3 linked regions of the Homo sapiens genome follow. The protein of the gene in region 3 binds, or shares a complex with, the protein of the main gene of each other region. Links are inferred from orthologs where the notes say so. Each region holds a gene or a part of one and is shown on either strand. Other genes may lie near its edges.

The links. The genes of interacting proteins can lie anywhere in the genome.
Region 1: the proteins of AP1S1 (region 3) and AP1M1 are in contact, whole or in part, in a crystal structure (PDB 1W63), measured with the Mus musculus proteins. The link is inferred for Homo sapiens from one-to-one orthologs. Residues at the interface, in NP_031483.1 of Mus musculus: Lys26, Lys30, Arg33, Glu34, Gln37, Lys43, Glu51, Trp52, Arg53, Asp54; in NP_031482.1 of Mus musculus: Lys12, Glu31, Asn186, Asn188, Val189, Leu190, Glu232, Glu234, Asn270, His272, Arg421.
Region 2: the proteins of AP1S1 (region 3) and AP1G1 are in contact, whole or in part, in a crystal structure (PDB 1W63), measured with the Mus musculus proteins. The link is inferred for Homo sapiens from one-to-one orthologs. Residues at the interface, in NP_031483.1 of Mus musculus: Met1, Leu14, Arg15, Leu16, Gln17, Lys18, Trp19, Leu21, Ala22, Thr23, Asp25, Arg28, Lys29, Arg42, Lys45, Met46, Cys47, Ser48, Phe49, Glu51, Lys56, Gln74, Asp75, Asn76, Glu77, Leu78, Ile79, Leu81, Glu82, Leu83; in NP_001288140.1 of Mus musculus: Leu7, Arg8, Ile11, Arg12, Arg15, Leu54, Tyr55, His57, Met58, Gly60, Tyr61, Lys78, Phe79, Thr80, Arg83, Ile84, Leu87, Met90, Leu91, Asp94, Glu95, Thr115, Phe117, Leu123, Cys124, Gly127, Cys128, Tyr152, Lys155, Lys156.

The regions. Positions count from the first base shown.
Region 1 is NC_000019.10:16,242,902-16,246,439, reverse strand, and holds the end of AP1M1 (AP-1 complex subunit mu-1), read right to left. Parts: 3' UTR 534-3,538; downstream 1-533. UniProt on the Homo sapiens protein: Subunit of clathrin-associated adaptor protein complex 1 that plays a role in protein sorting in the trans-Golgi network (TGN) and endosomes.
Region 2 is NC_000016.10:71,749,802-71,756,843, forward strand, and holds part of AP1G1 (AP-1 complex subunit gamma-1), read right to left. Parts: intron 6,359-7,042; coding exon 6,218-6,358; intron 4,087-6,217; coding exon 4,032-4,086; intron 532-4,031; coding exon 409-531; intron 183-408; coding exon 93-182; intron 1-92. UniProt on the Homo sapiens protein: Subunit of clathrin-associated adaptor protein complex 1 that plays a role in protein sorting in the late-Golgi/trans-Golgi network (TGN) and/or endosomes.
Region 3 is NC_000007.14:101,149,764-101,157,499, reverse strand, and holds the start of AP1S1 (AP-1 complex subunit sigma-1A), read right to left. Parts: upstream 3,025-7,736; 5' UTR 2,986-3,024; coding exon 2,983-2,985; intron 907-2,982; coding exon 728-906; intron 124-727; coding exon 15-123; intron 1-14. UniProt on the Homo sapiens protein: Subunit of clathrin-associated adaptor protein complex 1 that plays a role in protein sorting in the late-Golgi/trans-Golgi network (TGN) and/or endosomes.

The sequences.
Region 1 (3,538 bases), on a different chromosome or scaffold from region 3:
TTCATTTTTTTTTAAATAAACTCACTTTGTTGATTTTCTTTATTGAGTGTTTCTTTTCCATTTTCTTTGTATCTACTCCCTATTATTTCCTTCTTTCTGTGCTCTTACATTTATTTTGTTGTTCTTTTTCTAACTTCTTGAGATGGAGGCTTAGATCATTATTTTAGCCTTTATATATGTATATATGTGTACACATTTAATATCTACTCATATATATTTCTTTCTTTTTGAGATGGAGTTTTGCTCTTGTTGCCCAGGCTAGAGTGAAATGGTGAGATCTTGGTTCACTGAAACCTCCGCCTCCCAGGTTCGAGTGATTCTCCTGCCTCAGCCTCCCGAGTAGCTGGGATTACAGGCACATGCCGCTGTGCCCGGCTAATTTTTGTATTTTTAGTAGAGATGGGGTTTCACGATGCTGACTTCAGGTGATCCACCTGGGCTGGCCTCCCAAAGCGCTGGGATTACAGGCTTGAGCCACCTCGCCCAGCCTAGAATTGTAACTCTCAAACATTCAAAGGAAAACAATGACTTTATTTTTATTTTTTAAATTATTTATTTATTTTAGCCCCCTGCCTTTTTAAATATAAGCTCTCATCATTCAAGCAATGACTTTTTTTAAAAGCCACAAACAATCTGTAATAAATCCAGAGAGGACATAAAAGAGAACATAGAAAGGACAAAAATAGAAAACAAAGTAAGACGGTAGATTTAAATTTATACTTAAATGTAATATCAGTTATTACATTAAATGTAAAGGGACTTAATGCTCCAGCTAAAAGTCATTTTGTCAAACTGAATTTTAAAAATTCCAACTCTACGCTATTTTCCCCCCCAAATGCTGTCACACTCCTAGGAACAGAGAGGTCATTCTGGGTGGAATTCTGGTCTCCCCGCACTTTGGGAGGCCGAGGCAGGTGGATCACTTGAGGCCAGGAGTTCTAGACCAGCTTGGCCAATATGGTGAAACCACAACTCTATAAAATTACATAAATTAGCTGGGTGTGGTGGCGTGCACCTGTAATCCTGGCTACTCAGGAGGCTGAGGCAGGAGAATTGCTTGAACCCAGGAGGTGGAGGTTGCAGTGAGCTGAGATCACGCCACTGCACTCCAGCCTGGGCGACAGAGTGAGACTCTGTCTCAAAAAAACAAAACAAAGAAGAAAAGCAAAGTTACAGTGCTAAAATAATAAAAATGTTTTAGCTCCCTTAGATAGTAAAATGCATACTTATCAAAATGCAGATTTGGCTGGGCGCAGTGGCTCATGCCTGTAATCCCAGCACTTTGGGAGGCCGAGGCGGGCGGATCACCTGAGGTCGGGAGTTTGAGACCAGCCTGACCAACATGGAGAAACCCCGCCTCTACCAAAAATACAAAGTTAGGCAGGCCTGGTGGCGCATCGTGTAATCCCAGCTACTCAGGAGGCTGAGGCAGGAGAATAGCTTGAACCCGGGATGCAGAGGTTGCAGTGAGCAAAGACCGCGCCATTGCACTCCAGCCTGGGCAACAAGAGCGAAACTCCGTCTCAACAACAACAACAACAACAACAACAACAACAAACAACAAATTTTATCCATGTTATTTATTTATTTATTTATTTATTTTGAGACGGAGTCTCGCTCTGTCGCCCAGGCCGGACTGCGGACTGCAGTGGCGCAATCTCGGCTCACTGCAAGCTCCGCTTCCCGGGTTCACGCCATTCTCCTGCCTCAGCCTCCGGAGTAGCTGGGACTACAGGCGCCCGCCACCGCGCCCGGCTAATTTTTTGTATTTTTAGTAGAGACGGGGTTTCACCGTGTTAGCCAGGATGGTCTCGATCTCCTGACCTCGTGATCCGCCCGCCTCGGCCTCCCAAAGTGTATCCATGTTATTTATTCTCCTCCCAGACAGTCATTAACTTGGAACATTTTAACTCAGTTTACTCCCTGCAGACTTTTTTTCCTGTTGTATAATTCTATCACTTAAAAAAACTCCAGAAACTGTTTATGCAATCTTTGTCTAGATTTTCTCATGTATTTTCTACTTCTTTGCTTTTATTTCTTCTTGCATCATGCCCTTCCGTCTGAGATCACTTTCCTTGTGCCTGATGTGAGTACACTGTTTACAATTTTCTTTAGTGTTAGCCTGCTGCTGGCAAACTCTTTCGTTATTTGTCTGCAAAATGTTTTTACTGTAACCTCATTCTTGAAATACTTTTGCTGGGTCTCTGATTTGGGTTAGTGGTTTTCTTTTAGCATGTTGAAAATGTCACCCAACTGTTTTCTGGGTTCCTTTGAAAAGCCAGCTGTCTGTCTGTCTGGTTGTCATGTCTGAAGGTGATGTGTCTTTACCTCTGGCTGCTTTAAGTATCTTTTGCCTTTTTCCCCTTTGTGAATGTTTTTGCTGAAGTGTAACATATACACAAAAGAGTGTGCAAATCATCAATGCTTGATGGATTCTCGAGAGCACACCCATGTCACCTGCATCCAGATTGAAAAATATTCTCTAATTATTTATTTGGAGACAGACTCTCGTTTCGTTGCCCAGGCTGGAGTGCAGTGGCACAATCTCAGCTCACTGCAACCTCTGCCTCCAGGGTTCAAGCCATTCTTGGGCCTCAGCCTCCTGAGTAGCTGGGATTTACAGGCGTGTGCCACTACACCTGGTTAATTTTTGTATTTTTAGTAGAGATGGATTTTCGCCATGTTGGCCAGGCTGGTCTCGAACTCCTGAGCTCAAGTGATTCACCTGCTTCAGCCTCCTAAAGTGCTGGGATTATAGACATGAGCCACTGCACCTGGCCATTCTCTAATATTTTCTAACTTCCATTATATTTTCTTCTTTGACACATGGTGATTGAAAAATGTGCTTTAAAATCTCTCATATTGGCTGGGCATGGTGACTCACACCTGTAATTCCAGCACTGTGGAGGCTGAGGCAGGTGGATCACTTGAGCCCAAGTGCAAGACCAGCCTGGGCAACATGGCAAAACTCCATCTCTACTAAAAATACAAAAAAAAAAAAAAAATAGCTGAGCTTGGTGGTGCTCACCTGTAATCCCAGCTACTTGTGAGACTGAGATGGGAGGACTATTTCAGCCTAGGAGGCCAAGGTTGCAGTGAGCTGACATCGTGCCACTGACTGCACTCCAGCCTGGGCAACAGAGACCCTTTCTCAAAACAAAAACAAAAACAAAAACAAAAACAAAAACAAAAAAAACCTCTCATATTTGGAAATATTTTAAAGTAATTTATTTCTTGTTGAATTCTAACTAATTTCTCTTGAAAATTCCTCAGAGAGTGGGAACTCTAATAATAATTCTTGGAGTTGTGTGGAAACTTCTCGGGGATCTAATACATTTTTTCTTTTGCTTTCTTGCTTTAAAGTCTATTCTGGCCGTGTGTGGTGGCTCACACCTGCCACTAGCACTTTGGGAGGCCAGTGGGGGTGGATCACCTGAGGTCAGGGTTCAAGACCAGCCTGGCCAACATGGCAAAACCCTGTCTCTACTAAAAATAAAAAAAATACAAAAATAAAAAAATTTAGCCAAGCATGGTGGTG
Region 2 (7,042 bases), on a different chromosome or scaffold from region 3:
CAAGGAATCAACCTCAACTCCCCATTAAACACTACTCTCCTATAACCAAAACCACTATTTTCCCCCACTTAACCAAGAGTGACAAGGAGTACCTGAATAGGCTCTTCCTCTTCACACTGGCCAGATACAAGAAGATCACCATATTCACCTATACACCATGCAGCCACTTGTACCAAAGGTTGCTGTGAAAAGAAAAGTCAACGTTTCTCAAGAACTTCAATTTTTCCAAAGTTATTTAATGCAAATCATAGGTCATCTCATAATAAAGATCAAAACTGTGCATATCTAGAGTGTTAGAAATAAAGACATACCAAAGGGGAGAGAGGAGGGGGGAAAAAAAAGAAGAAAAACATACCAGAAAAATTGAGGGTAAAATTACCCCCTAAAATAGTTGAATGAAGTACTTACTTGAGAATAATCACCAAGAATTGCTTTGTACAGGCGCTGGACAGTATAGGCATGCATCTCCACACTATTAGTTATTAACTGGATTAAATTGGGGACTGCATCATCACGAACATAACTTCCTGCCTAAAAGGAAATGCAGACAATTACCCCTAGAAACACACAGAAATGATGATAACAAGTGTTAGCTATTATTATTACTGTGTGTTTTTTCCTTTCTTTTTTTGAGACAGAGTCTCGCTCTGTCACCCAGGCTGGAGTGCGATAGCGCGATCTTGGCTCACTGCAACCTCCACCTCCCAGGTTCAAGCGATTCTCATGCCTCAGCCTCCCAAGTAGCTGGGACTACAGGTACATGCCACCACACCTGGCTAATTTTTTCTATTTTTAGTAGAGATGGGGTTTCACCATGTTGGTCAGGGTGGTCTCGAACTCCTGACCTCAGATGATCCACCTGCCTCGGCCTCTCAAAGTGCTGGGATTACAGGCGTGTGCCACTGCGCCCAGCCATTACTATTGTTTTTAAAAGAAGAATACCAGAAAACACCCTCAAAGATAAATTTGGTTCCAATTCTCAGGTTCATAACAGCTCAAACTTCAAAGTCTTATTTAAATATGTTACATTTTTAAATTTTATTTTATTTTTAAAAATTTTCTCTTTGTCCAAAGGCCGGGTGTGGTGGCTCACGCCTGTAATCCCAGCACTTTGGGAGGCCAAGGCGGGTGGATCACAAGGTCAGGAGATCGAGACCATCCTGGCTAACACGATGAAACCCCGTCTCTACTAAAAATACAAAAAATTAGCCGGGCATGTGGTGGGTGCTTGTAGTCCCAGCTACTCAGGAGGCTGAGACAGCAGAATGGCGTGAACCCAGGAGGCCGAGCTTGCAGTGAGCCGAGTTTGCGCCACTGCACTCCAGCCTGAGCAACAGACTGAGACTCCGTCTCAAAAAAAAAAAAAAAAAAATTTCTCTTTGTCCAAATTAAAAAAGGAAGGCTGGACACAGTGGCTCACACCTGTAATCGCAGCACTTTGGATGGCTGAAGCAAGATGACTGCTTGAGGCCAGGAGTTTGACACAAGCCTGGGCCACACAGCAAGACTCCATCACTACCAACAATAATAATAATAATAATAATAATGTAAAGGTTTAAAACTTTATCACCCAACCTTGGTCAATCTCCCATTCCTAAATAGAACAATAGATTTAATTTGTAAGACTGAGACCAGTCCTAACCATGTGTATTTTGGAAAGGAAAAAAAAGAAAAAAAAAAAAAAACAGCCAGGTGATCAGGGTTTTATCAGGTCACTCCTGTTAAGAAACACAAAGACAGAGGAAGAATTCTGGGAAAATGATCAGAAGGAAAGGTGAGAAGCTAAAAAGCAGGTAATTTGCAGTATAGTTTATTTACATCCTTCCGTAAAGCAGAGTGCATTAAATACAAGAAAGCATCAGGGTGATCTAATGGGTTTGTATAATAAGACTACTTCATTCAACAGCAGCAGAATACACATTTTTCTTAAACTTACACTGAACCAAGAAAGACCATATTCTGGGTCATAAAAAATATCTTAACAAATTTCAAATAACATAAATCATAGACAGTATGCTCTTAGACCACACAGAATTAAACTAGAAATCTGCAACACAAAGACAGGTGCAAAAAAATCCCAAAATATTTGGAGATTAAAAGAACATACTTCTAAATAACACATGGGTCAAAAACAACATTATAAGAGAAAACTATAAGCCAATCTCTCTCATGAATACACATATAAAAATACTCAACAAGATATTAGCAAATCAAACCCAACAAAGTTATAAAAAGAATAATATACCCTGACCACGTATTCCAGGTATGTAAGGCTGGTTAGGCATTCAAATATCAATGTAACCCAGCATGTAACAGGCTAAAGAAAACAAATCACATGATCATAAGAGAACACAAGTCAGTTAGAAAAATAAAATCAGGGGCACAAAAAAAAAGCTTTTGAATTCTCATAAACACTTTCCTTCAGGAGTGTTAATTTCTCCCTTCTTTTGAGCCTCATGAAAACTAGGAAAACATGTCCTGTTCATCATTATGTTAATTACATTTTGTTAGATTATAATTTTTCCCCTTGCTAATCAAATTTATTAACTTTTAACCTTTTACCAAGTTAATTCATTGTAAGTAAACTAAAAAACGAGTATGCCCCAGAGAGAATTCCACAGCAACAAATACATATACATATAAGTCATAATTTCATAAGTCAACAAATACATATAAGTCATAATTTCAATGATATAATTTTCTCCCTACAGATGTTTCATAATTTACTTAATCCCCATTTGGGGACTACTAGTTGTTTCCGGTTTTCTCCTACTATAAACAATATTAGGATGAATACTTTTACATACACATTTTTGTGTACTTGTCCTATTATTTTTTCAGGCTAAAGTCCTAAAAATTGAATTAATGAATCAAAGGGTACAATTTAAGGCTTTTCCTACATGCTACCAAACTGCATAGTAAAAAGATGGCATCATCCTATACTCCCATAAAGTGAAGAGTACTGCCTGTTTCTCTATTTTCTAACACTGGGAATTAGATTAAAAAATACGAAATGTGAAAAATGATACCTCAATTTTACTTTATTTCTTTAATAAGAAAATTTTTTCAAATGTTAATTAGCCATTTCTTTCTTCATGAATTGCTGGTTCAAATACCAATTTTTCCATTAGAGTGGTATTTCCTATCAATTATAAATTATTCATAGATTGAATATATTAATATGCTGTCATAAGTTAATGTTTTCCCCAGTTGTTAATTTGCCTTTTAAATCGTAGACTGTTCCCCTTTTTGTTATTCAATTTTTAAATTTTAATATGGTTAAATTTGTGGCTTTTCCTTTACAGTAGCTACTTCTAGTGACTTAATTAATGGAAATGGTTTTCTTTACATGTCACTGCACTTTCATTTTTACTCTTAAATACCTAATCCTTGCCTACTAATTGAATAATAAACACAGAAACCCTGAATTTCTGCAAGAATGCCAAAGAAAGGATCCCATCCAAAACAGGATTTCAAATCCTGAGTAACTTTAGCCATTCAAAACCCTGCAATGGCTTCCTAACATATTCAAAATAAAATGCAAGCTCCCATGAGGCCTACATAGTCTGGCTCCGCTTATGTCTCTGACATCCATCCTACCATTCTCTGCCTCTCTCACTTTATGGCTTCACTTGCCTTCCTGTTGCTCTCCAAGCAAGCTATGCTTGTTCCTACCTCAGGTCTTTGCACTTAGGGTTCCCTCCGTATGGTACACTATTCCTCACGATCTCTGCATGGCTTGCACCTCATGTCTCTTAGGTCTCTACTCAAATGTTATCTCCTCTGAGAGACCTCCCTGACTAACTCTAATCTAAAACACTTGGCCAGTTGCCCTATATCCCACCTTATCCTGCCATCATTATATTCCTCCATGCTGCTTTAGGTTTTTCTTCATGGCATTTATTCCTAACTGACATTAATGTTACCTATTTACTTGTGAATTTCTTACCTCCCTGACTAGAACATAAACTTCATGATAACATCAGTATATCCCAGCACTTCGTATATGCTGTCTGAAAGAAGCTACTTACCGTTGTCAAAACACGCATAATTGTGTCTATATGCCATCGTTTGGAAGGTGCATACCTGAAAAAAACAATGGAAAGGGACACTTGGAACCAGTAAAATATACCGTTTTCAGTGACTAGAAAATCCTGCCCAAGCAGGGTGACTCACACCTGTCATCCCAACATCTTGGGAGGCCGAGGTGGGAGATCACCTGAGCTCAGGAGTTCGAGACCAGCCTGGGCAACACGGTGAAACTCCATCTCACCAAAAAATACAAAAATTAGCTGGGTGTGGTGGTGGGTGCCTGTAGTTCAGCTACTCTGGGAGGTTGAGGTAGGAGGATTGCCTGAGCCTAGGAGGTTGAGGCTACAGTGAGAAAGAAGAGAGAGAAAAGAAAGAGAAGAAACAGAAGAAAGAAAAGAAAGGGAAGAAAGAGAAGAGAAGAAAGAAAAGAAAGAAGGAAAGAAGATGGAAGGAAAGAAGGAAGGAAGGAAGGAAGGAACAAAAAAGAGAGAGAAAGAAAAGAAAGAAAAAGAAAGAAAGAAAGAAAGGAAGGAAAGGAAAAGAAAGGAAAAGAAAAGAGAAGAAAATCCTGTCCTACAGTCTTTTCTAGGTTCCCTGGATAAGTGAACATATCTGGAAACATTTCAACTTCAAATCTAGCAGCAAATGCCATTTCAAAGAGTGATAAAAAGGTATACAGTCAACTGACTTCAGTGGCTCATGCCTATAATCCCAGTACTTTGGGACGCCAAGGAGGAAGGAGTGCTTGAGGCCAGGAGTTCCACACAAACCTGGGTAACATAGCAAGACCCCATCTCTACAAAATAAAAATTAAAAAATTAGTGGCACATGATGATTTGCAGCTACAGTCCCAGCTACTCAGGAGGCTGAGGCAGAAGGATGGCTTAAGCCCAGAAGTCCAGGCTGCAGTAAGCTATGACTGGGCCACTGCCCTCCAGCCTGGGTGACAGAGCAAGACTCCGTTTCTAAAATTAAAGAAAAAAAAAAAAGAGGGTACATAGTCAAACTCAGATGTTTCCCATAAGATTGCAATAAGAGTTGCTAAGCTGAGAAATGAGATTTGTTTTCAGTTTCAGAGAAAATGAATCATTCAGTCAGGGCAGGAGACGATAAAGAAGAAAGAAGAAAAGGGACTGTTTTCAGACCAAGACAACATTTGGACTAAAAACTTGTTTCCTTAAATTCAGAGTGGAAAGAAGAGAAAGAATAGCTGTACTACTAAAATCATAAGGTACTTCCTCAAAATTCTGCATAGAGCTGCAATTCAGGTGCTGTAACTGTTCTATTGCCTTTATTAAAACAGCATCACAGGCCAGGTGTGGTGGCTGATGCCTGTAATCCTAGCACTTTGGGAGGCTGAGGCAGGCGAATCGCTTGAGTCCAGGAGTTCGAGACCAGCCTGGACAACATAGCGAAACCCCATCTCTACAAAAAGAAAAAAACAAACCCAGAAATTAGCAGGGTGTGGTGGCGTAAGCCTATGGTCCCAGCTACTTGGGGGGCTGAGGCAGGAGGATCCCCTGAACCTGGGAGGTCAAGGTTGCACTGAGCCGAGACTGTGCCACTGCACTCCAGCCTAGGTGACAAAGTGAGACCCTGTCTCAAAAAAACCCAAAACAAAAAAAACCAGCATCATAGATGAGAGGTTAAAGAACAGATAAAGGAGAAGATTTCATAAAAGTGTGAAATTTTTTTGGTCTCAGCATATTTAAATGCTGGCTATAATAGCCTTCTCCAAGCTAATTTATAATTGAGGGTTTGAAATAAATGTTATGTGTTTTAAACATATTTAAAGTAGTTTCCCCATTTTTTTTTTTTTGTTTTGTTTTTGAGATGGAGTCTTGCTCTGTCACCTAGGCTGGAGTGCAGTGGCATAACCTTGGCTCACTGCAACCTCCACCTCCCAGGTTCAAGTGATTCTCCTGCCTCAGCCTGCCGAGTAGCTGGGACTACAGGCGCGTGCCACCAGGCCCAACAAATTTTTGTATTTTTAGTGGCGACAGGGTTTCACTATGTTGGCCAGGCTGGTCTCGAACTCCTGACTTCATGATCCACCTGCCTTGGCCTCCCAAACTGCTGAGACTGCAGGCGTGTGCCACCGCGCCCAGCCCCCTCCCCATGTTTTAAAGACACTTCCAAAAGTTCCAAGCAGACTTTACCAATAAAGGTAAAAATTAAATCTTACTTTTCTGCAGCAAGAAAGATTCCAGATGCACAGTCTGCTTTAAATTCTGGCTCACACGAATCCAGAAAATAAAGTAATTCTTTCATCATGCCTCGGATATTATTCCCATTTACCAGGGCAAAACTCAATTCCATTGCACGCCTTGCAGAAGGGAAAAATTAAAAACAGTTAAGAAATTTATAGTGGAAATGAAACAAAGACCCAGGTATGCACTCTGTGAACACCAAGTACTGCCAGATGTGCTGACGTCCTTGCACGATCTTGTGATCCCAATCTTTGCACACGAAATAACCAAGGAGATGTATTCTTACATAATCAAAGTTAGTTTTGATATTTTGAATCTTCATGCAATATTCTTCTTCAAAAGTCCCTACGAGATATACCACTAATGTCCAAACATGCAGCTTGGGTTCAACAGGCTGTTCTACAAAGGTGGAAGTTAGAATACCTGAGAGTCTCAAAAAGAGGGGCAACAAATAAATGTATTACCCAATAATAATACCTATCTGCCTCATTCCTTAAAAATGTGACATGTTAAGTCACCATATTCTACTTTTATTACACCCCACTCTGTCCAAACATGATGTAATATAGTTTATGTCAAAAGGTATGCAGAAAATTCAAATTAAAAACAAATTCAAGGCCGAGCGTGGTGGCTCACACCTGTTTTCTCACCACTTTGGGAGGCCAAGGCAGGCGAATCACCTGAGGTCAGGAGTTTGAGACCAGCATGGCCAACATGGTGAAAGCACTTCTGTACTAAAAATACAAAAATTAGCCGGGCATGGTGGTGGGCGCCTGTAGTCCCAGGTACTAGGGAGGCTG
Region 3 (7,736 bases):
CAGAGGAGACTTACACTGCCAAAGTATTTGTCTAAGAGCTCCACGTATCGGTGGATCAGCTCCAGTGTGATGAGCTCATTGTCTTGGCCCTCGATGGCGCAGCAGAAGTAGAGGCTGGCATATCTGCGGAGAGGAGCGCATGAGACATCGCTACAAGCTTGCTTCAGGACCCAGGCATTCTGGTCTCAAACCTCTCACCAGCCTGGAGGTGGTCTGTGCCCTGGCTGGCCACAGGTGAGGTGGCCCTAGGGCATGTAAAGAGTAACTCACCTGCCTCTTTGTGCTGTCTTAAAAACATGCAAAGAACGCATGCTTTTTCCTTCCTGCCCTCTGACCTCCTAAGTTTGACTCAGCAAAAACCTGAGCCAAGTAATTTACCTGCTCCGAGGAGAAGGAACCGGAAAGGGTGTGTGTGTGCGTGTGTGTTAGGAAAAGTAGGGCAGGACCTTTGACTGCAAGGGACATGCGCAGTGGGGCAAGACAGGGCCCAAAGGGACACGTGAGTGAGGCAGGTGTTGCACGTGAGCAAAACCAAGTGGTAAACAAGAACTTCTTTAAGAGTTTGGGGAGAAAAAAAAAAAAAAAAAAGGAAGCTGACATTCATTACTGTCCTCCAGATGTCCTCAGCTCCCAGGTCTCCCTGACCTACAGGACGACCATTTCTCAGACATTTTAACCCACTGCCCAACTTGAATCTAGGCAGGTCTGAAAGTAGGTGGGGAGTCACCTCTTATAGACAACTTTGAGGTCCCTCCACTCCAGGAAGCTGCACATCTTGGGCTTTCGAGCCAGGACAACCTGCATGAGCTCGCGCACCATCTTCTTCCGTTCCTTGTCCGAAGTGGCCAGGTACCATTTTTGCAGCCGCAGTTTTCCCTGCCGGCTGAATAATAGCATGAACCGCATCTGTGGGGGATGGGAGGGCAGAACCGAGGGTAACCACACATTCCCCAAACTTATCTCCAGCTAATTCTTCTCTACTTTCTTCCAACATCCAGCCCCTTGCTCTCAAGGCTGGGTGTTTCCACCAGCAGGGGGAAGTCAGAGCTTCTGAGTCTGTCAGCTGGGTTCAAATCCTGGCTCTACTAGTTATGCAAGGCCTTGGCCCAATTACTACTGTAAGTCTCTGGGCCTCAGTTTCCTTATGTGTAAAATGGACATTGTACCTGCCTTGCACAGTTGTTAGGTGAGACTAAATGATTTGATATATGCAAGTCCCTAGCACAGGCAGGCAGTATAACATGTTAGCTATTATTATTATTATTTTTGAGACAGAGTCTCTCTCTGTCGCCCAGGCTGGAGTGCAGTGGCGCAATCACTGTTCAGTGCAATCTCCGCCTCCCAAGTTCCAGCGATTCTCCTGCCTCAGCCTCCTGAGTAGCTGGGATTACAGTCACGTGCCATCACGCCCGGCTAATATTTGTATTTTTAGTAGAGATGTGGTTTCACCATGTTGGCCAGGCCCTGGTCTCGAACTCCCGACCTCAGGTGATCCACCCACCTAGGCCTCCCAAAGTGCTGGCATTAAGGCATGAGCCACTGCGCCCGGCCGTTAGTTATTACTATTATTACCATGATTCCCTGACCTCTTGCTTTCTGGTCTGCTTTCTAAAGGTAAGTAAAATGCCTAGCACAGTGACAAGACGACAGTAACCGACGCCAAAGAAATGCCTGTTCTCTTCCACCCTCTCTCTATCCATCACCATGCTGAAATCTGGTATTTTGTCCCTGGAGAAGCTACCTCAATTTTCCACCCCATCATAGCCATAAGATCTTAATGATCTCCCAAACATATCATCCTCCAGTGCCAGGCCTATGCCCAGGGGTATCCTCCTCTGTAGTATGTATCTCCAACACCACACAGGGTATGCAGATGCCCAAATCCTATCTTCCTCTCTGCAGGCACCCAGGCATTTGGTCTTCGACATTTCTCTTTAACTTTTCTTCCTTTTAGGGTGCCTCCTGCTAAGCGCCCACTCCTCCCCAGACACCAGGTGACCAATTTCCCTCAGTTAGGGCCCCGCCACCCAGGGGGTTCCCCTAAAAGAATGTCTGCAGAACAGACAGCAAGCTGGGTCAAGTGGGATGGAAGACAGAACCCTCACTGCCCAGTGTACCCCAGCTTCCCAGTTCCGGGGGGTCTGGGCCACATCCTGGAGTCTTCTCCTTACCCCAGTAGCTCTTCTATTCATGGACATGCCCAGGCTTGGAATCCCTGGGTGTGTGGCACTGTACTAGCTTAGTAAGTGAAAAATCAGAATTCAGGAGAACTGATTTTTTTGGTGGAGGGGAAAAGAGGGGCGCTGGGGAGCCTCGTGCGGCGCTCAAATAGGGGGGTGGGGAGCAAGCAGGAAGACGGAAGGCCTGGATTCCGGAAAGAGAATGGGAAGGGGGGCAGAGAGCCCCGGAGCCCGGGATCCCAAAGCCTGGGTCCCTCGGAGAAAAACCACGAGTCCACTTCGCTTCCCTACCTGGGCCCAGCCTCTAGGCAAGCACGGCCACGAACGCAGTAGGGCGCTCCCTTTTCCGACCCGGAAACTCCCCTCCCACACCCCTCTCCCCACCCGGGTCCCCGCTCCCGCCTGTGCAGCCCGGGAAGGGGGTCTCGGTGACTGGTGACCCCCGCTCCCTCCCTCAGCAAAGAGACTCCCGCAACCCTCTGCTTCGGGCGGCTTCCCTGCAGCGGGGATCGAGGGACCCCAGGGGCCAAGACCAGAGCGCCCCTCCCGGCTCGGGACGGCCCCGCCGCCCCTTCGTCAGCCCCCGCTCGCCCTGCAAATGCGCCCCCTCCCCGCCCCTCTCCCGAATGCCACCTCCCCCTCTTCCTCCCGAGCCCGGCTCGCCCACCCGCCGAGGCAAGGGAGGCCTCTGAGGACCAGAGGGAAGACAGGGCGGTTCACCCCGAGGGCGGCCCCCGAGGACCCCCGCAGGTGCAGCCCACGCCCCTCGCTTCCCCCTCCCCTCCCTCTTCGCACAGCCTACCATCCTGCAGCCTCCGGCTCGGCGCGTCCCACTTCGGCCACCGTAGGCGCCAGTCCCACTCCCTTTCTTATCCTTTCTCCTGCTGCCCTCCCTCTCGCCCGAAGCCCCGCCCCGTCCCGCCCAGGCTCTGACTCCCGGCGCGCCACGCACTGCGCAGGCGCCGACGCCGCGGGGAGCGCGGGCGGGGCTGGAGGCGGAGAAGCGGAAACCATGGCAACCAGGTCCTTGACTGCAGCTTCTAGGAGCCCGGTCGTCATGGTAACGCGGCTGTCCTGTGGGCTGGTTGGAGGATGGGGGAGGAGGACAATAAGGTCCTCGCGCTTTGGAGCCTTGTGGGGCAAAAAGGCGGGAAAAGGGGTGAGAGGTGAATGGGACGATCATTGGAGTTCGAAGCAGCAGGCAGGACTCCTGGAAGGGGAGTGGGCCGTGAAAAGGGAGCAGGGTGGGAATTAAGTGTAGGGGAGGAGGAGTGACCTGGAAAACAGAAAGACAAAGGGTCATGAGAAAAGTATAGAACCCAAGCTGAATATCTATTGAAAGCGTGATAGATACACCCCTCTAGTTTTTTTCTTTTTAGAGACAGGGTCTGGCCGCGTCACCCAGGTTGGAGTGCAGTGGTGGGATCGTGACTCTCTGCAGCCTTGAACTCCTGGCCTCAAGCGATCCTCCCGCCTCAGCCTCCTGAGTAGCTGGGACTACAGACGCACACCGTCATGCCCAGCTAATTTTTAATTTTTTTTTAGTAGAGACGGGGGTCTTACTATGTTGCCCAGGCTGGTCTCGAACTCTTGGGTTCAAGAGACCCTCCCGCCTCGGTTTCCCAAACTGCTGGGATTACAGGCGTGAGCCACCGCGCCTGGCTTCTGATTTTACAGTAAGAGAAATGTGTAGAAAAAGAATAAAAGAGAAAAGGAGAGGCTGCTATAAAAGGCATGTAAGGAGAAGGGGGAGGAACGTGAACTGAGGCAAAAGGGGAAGAAATAAAGAGCGTCTTAAAAGGTTAACTTGGGTCAAAACTCAAAAAGGGACAGATGTCACCCAAATCTCAGTGTGAAGATGAGGTGGATGTACGTTGTAATATGGGCTTTTAAACTGAATGTGTGTGTGTGTCTACATGTTACTGGAAAAAGGGGTCCCGATCCAGACCCCAAGAGAGAATTCTTGGATCTCATGCAGGAAGGAACCCAAAGCAAGTCGTAGAGTGCGATGAGAAGAGAGAGTTTATTGAAAGCTACACCCTTACGGAGTAGGGCGTCCTCAGAAAGCAAACAGAGGAACACACTGTCTTAAGTTTTTCTTTTCTTTCTTTCTTTTTTTTTTTCTTCTTTTTTTGAGACAGGGTCTTACTCTGTTGCCCAGGCTGGAGTGTAGTAGCATGATCATAGTTCACTGCAGCCTCCACCTCCTGAGCTCAAGCGATCCTCCCACTTCAGTCTCCCAAGTAGCTAGGACTACAGGCATGCACCACCACAGCCAGCTAATAGTTGTATGTTTTGTAGACACAGGGTATTGTCATGCTACCCAAGCTGGTCTGGGACTCCTGGACTCAAGGTATCCACACTCCTCAGCCTCCCAAAGTGTTGGGATTACAGGTATGAGCCACCGCCCCTGACCTTTAAGTTTTTCTTATATAGGGGTCTTGTTTTTGTAGAGACTAAACTAAGCCGAGTCAATGTGCAGATGGGCCAATGGCATGACAAAATTTATTATTCTGTTAATTTAACTATCCTTGACATTCTAGTAGGTAAGTACATCAAAGCAAAACTTAATTATCTTTCTTCCTTTTTTTTTTTTCTTGAGACAGAGTCTTGATCTGTTGCCCAGGCTGTAGTGCAGTGGCGTGATCTCAGCTCACTGCAACCTCCACCTCCTGGGTTCAAGCCATTCTTGTGTCTCAGCATCCCTAATAGCTGGATTACAGCTACATCCTTTCACCTCAGCCTCCCAAGTAGCTGTGACTGCAGGCATGAACCAGTGCATCCAATTAATTAAAAAAATATTTTGTTGTAGAGATGGGGTCTCACTACTGGGATTGTAGGCATGTGCTACGACACCCAGCTAATTTTTGTATCTTTAGTAGAGAGGGGGTTTTGCAATGTTGGCCAGGCTGATCTCGAACTCCTGGCCTAAAGCAATCCTGCCTTAGCCTCCACACCCAGCCAGAACTATAATTATCTTAAAGGCACATATTGTTATGGGTATTGGGGCATCTGGATTTTCTGTAGTTGGAGGAGTCTGTCCTTGCAGGTATCTTTAAGCTGTTTCCCCAACTGTAAACAGCTTTGGGTTGTGACTGACAAGGAATGTGCCTTGTTAGTTTCAAGATGGAGCTGAACTTAAAATGGCTTTATGCTGGCTCTCTGAGGCTCCTGCTTCCCTAGCACAAATGATAAAGTAAAGAGGTCTGGATAGAAGGATAAGAGAAAATCTTAAATTTTGTCATGCAGAAAAGTTAATGGTAGATAATTGTTGGCAACTAATGTGCTATTATTTTTGAGTAGCACATGATGCAATTGTTGGTAAGGCCTCACCTCCTGTCTCCACTTTATTTATTTATTTTGTGTATTTATTTTTTTGAGATGGAGTCTTGCTCTGTTGCCCAGGCTGGAGTGCAGTGGCACAATCTCGGCTCACTGCAACCTCCACCTCCCGGGTTCAAGTGATTCTCCTGATTCAGCCTCCTGACTCAGCCTTCTGTCTCAAAAAAAAAAAAAAAAAAAGAGGACAGTAGTACATATCTTGCAAGGTGGTTCTGAGGATTAGAGGTAATGTATAGCAAGTATCTGTAAACACTTCATAATGGTACCTATCATTTCCTCTTCCCAGACTCTTCCTTTTTTTTTTTTTTTTTTGTTGTTGTTGTTGTTGTTGAGACGGAGTCTCGTTCTTGTTGCCCACGCTGGAGTGCAGTGGCACGATCTCGGCTCACTGCAGCCTCCACCTCCCCGGATCAAGCAATTCTCCTTCCTCAGCCTCCCAAGTAGCTGGGACTACAGATATCTACCACCACACCCCGCTAAGTTTTATTTTTTTAGTAGAGATGGGGTTTCACCACGTTGGCCACGCTGGTCTCAAACTCCTGACCTCGAGTGATCTGCCTGCCTTGGCCTCTCAAAAGTTCTGGGATTACAGGTGTGAGCCACCGCGCCCGGGCCCAACTTCTTTCTTCTTTTACTTTTTCTTCTTCCTTTTGCTTTTGTTTTCTTTTCTCCTCTGCCTCCACCTTAGGCTTTTCAACACCATCGTCTAAGATATATGACATATACTAGTGGAATATCTTACCAGTGGCATAGATTATTGGCTGCCTGAACTATTGTGGTGCTACTTATTTATTTATTTATTTATTTTTTTTTTTTGAGACAGACTCTTGCACTGTCGCTCAGGCTGGACTGCAATGGTGTGATCTCGGCTCACTGCAACCTCCACCTCCTGGGCTCAAGTGATTTTCCTGCCTCGGCCTCCTAAGTAGCTGGGATTATAGGTGCATGCCACCACGCCCAGCTAATTTTTGTATTTTCAGTAGAGACGGGGTTTCACTATGTTGGCCAGGCTGGTCTCGAACTCCTGACCTCGTGATCCACCCGCCTCGGCCTCCCAAAATGCTGGGATTACAGGTGTGAGCCACCAAGCCCGGCAGCTATTTATTAGGTCAAGAATAAGATGGCACAGACAGTTAGCTGGCTGGACTATCCTGGTTGTGGGGAAAAGCAAGACAGATCAGATTGTTACTGTGTCTGTGTAGAAAGAAGTAGACATAGGAGACTCCATTTTGTTCTGTACTAAGACAAATTCTTCTGCCTTGAGTTTCTGTTAATCTATGACCTTACCCCCAACCCCGTGCTCTCTGAAACATGTGCTGTGTCAAACTCAGGGTTAAATAGATTAAGGGCGGTGCAAGATGTGCTTTGTTAAACAGATGCTTGAAGGCAGCATGCTCCTTAAGAGTCATCACCACTCCCTAATCTCAAGTACCCAGGGACACAAACACTGCGGAAGGCCGCAGGGACCTCTGCCTAGGAAAGCCAGGTATTGTCCAAGGTTTCTCCCCATGGGATAGTCTGAAATATGGCCTCGTGGGAAGGGAAAGACCTGACTGTCCCCCAGCCCGACACCCGTAAAGGGTCTGTGCTGAGGAGGATTAGTATAAGAGGAAGGCATGCCTCTTGCAGTTGAGACAAGAGGAAGGCATCTGTCTCCTGCCCGTCCCTGGGCAATGGAATGTCTTGGTATAAAACCCGATTGTACGTTCCATCTACTGAGATAGGGAAAAACCGTCTTAGGGCTGGAGGTGGGACATGCGGGCAGCAATACTGCTTTGTAAAGCATTGAGACGTTTATGTGTATGCATATCTAAAAGCACAGCACTTGATTCTTTACCCTGTCTATGATGCAAAGACCTTTGTTCACGTGTTTGTCTGCTGACCCTCTCCCCACTATTGTCTTGTGACCCTGCCACATCCCCCTCTCGGAGAAACACCCATGAATGATCAATAAATACTAAGGGAACTCAGAGGCTGGCGGGATCCTCCATATGCTGAACGCTGGTTCCCTGGGTCCCCTTATTTCTTTCTCTATACTTTGTCTCTGTGTCTTTTTCTTTTCCAAATCTCTCGTTCCACCTAACGAGAAACACCCACAGGTGTGGGGGGCAACCCACCCCTTCACCTGGTATCATTTGTAGGTCAAGAATAAGATCAATAAAGCAAGTTGTTAGGATTAGAAAGGATAAATCATATGGAATGAAAGCAAGGACT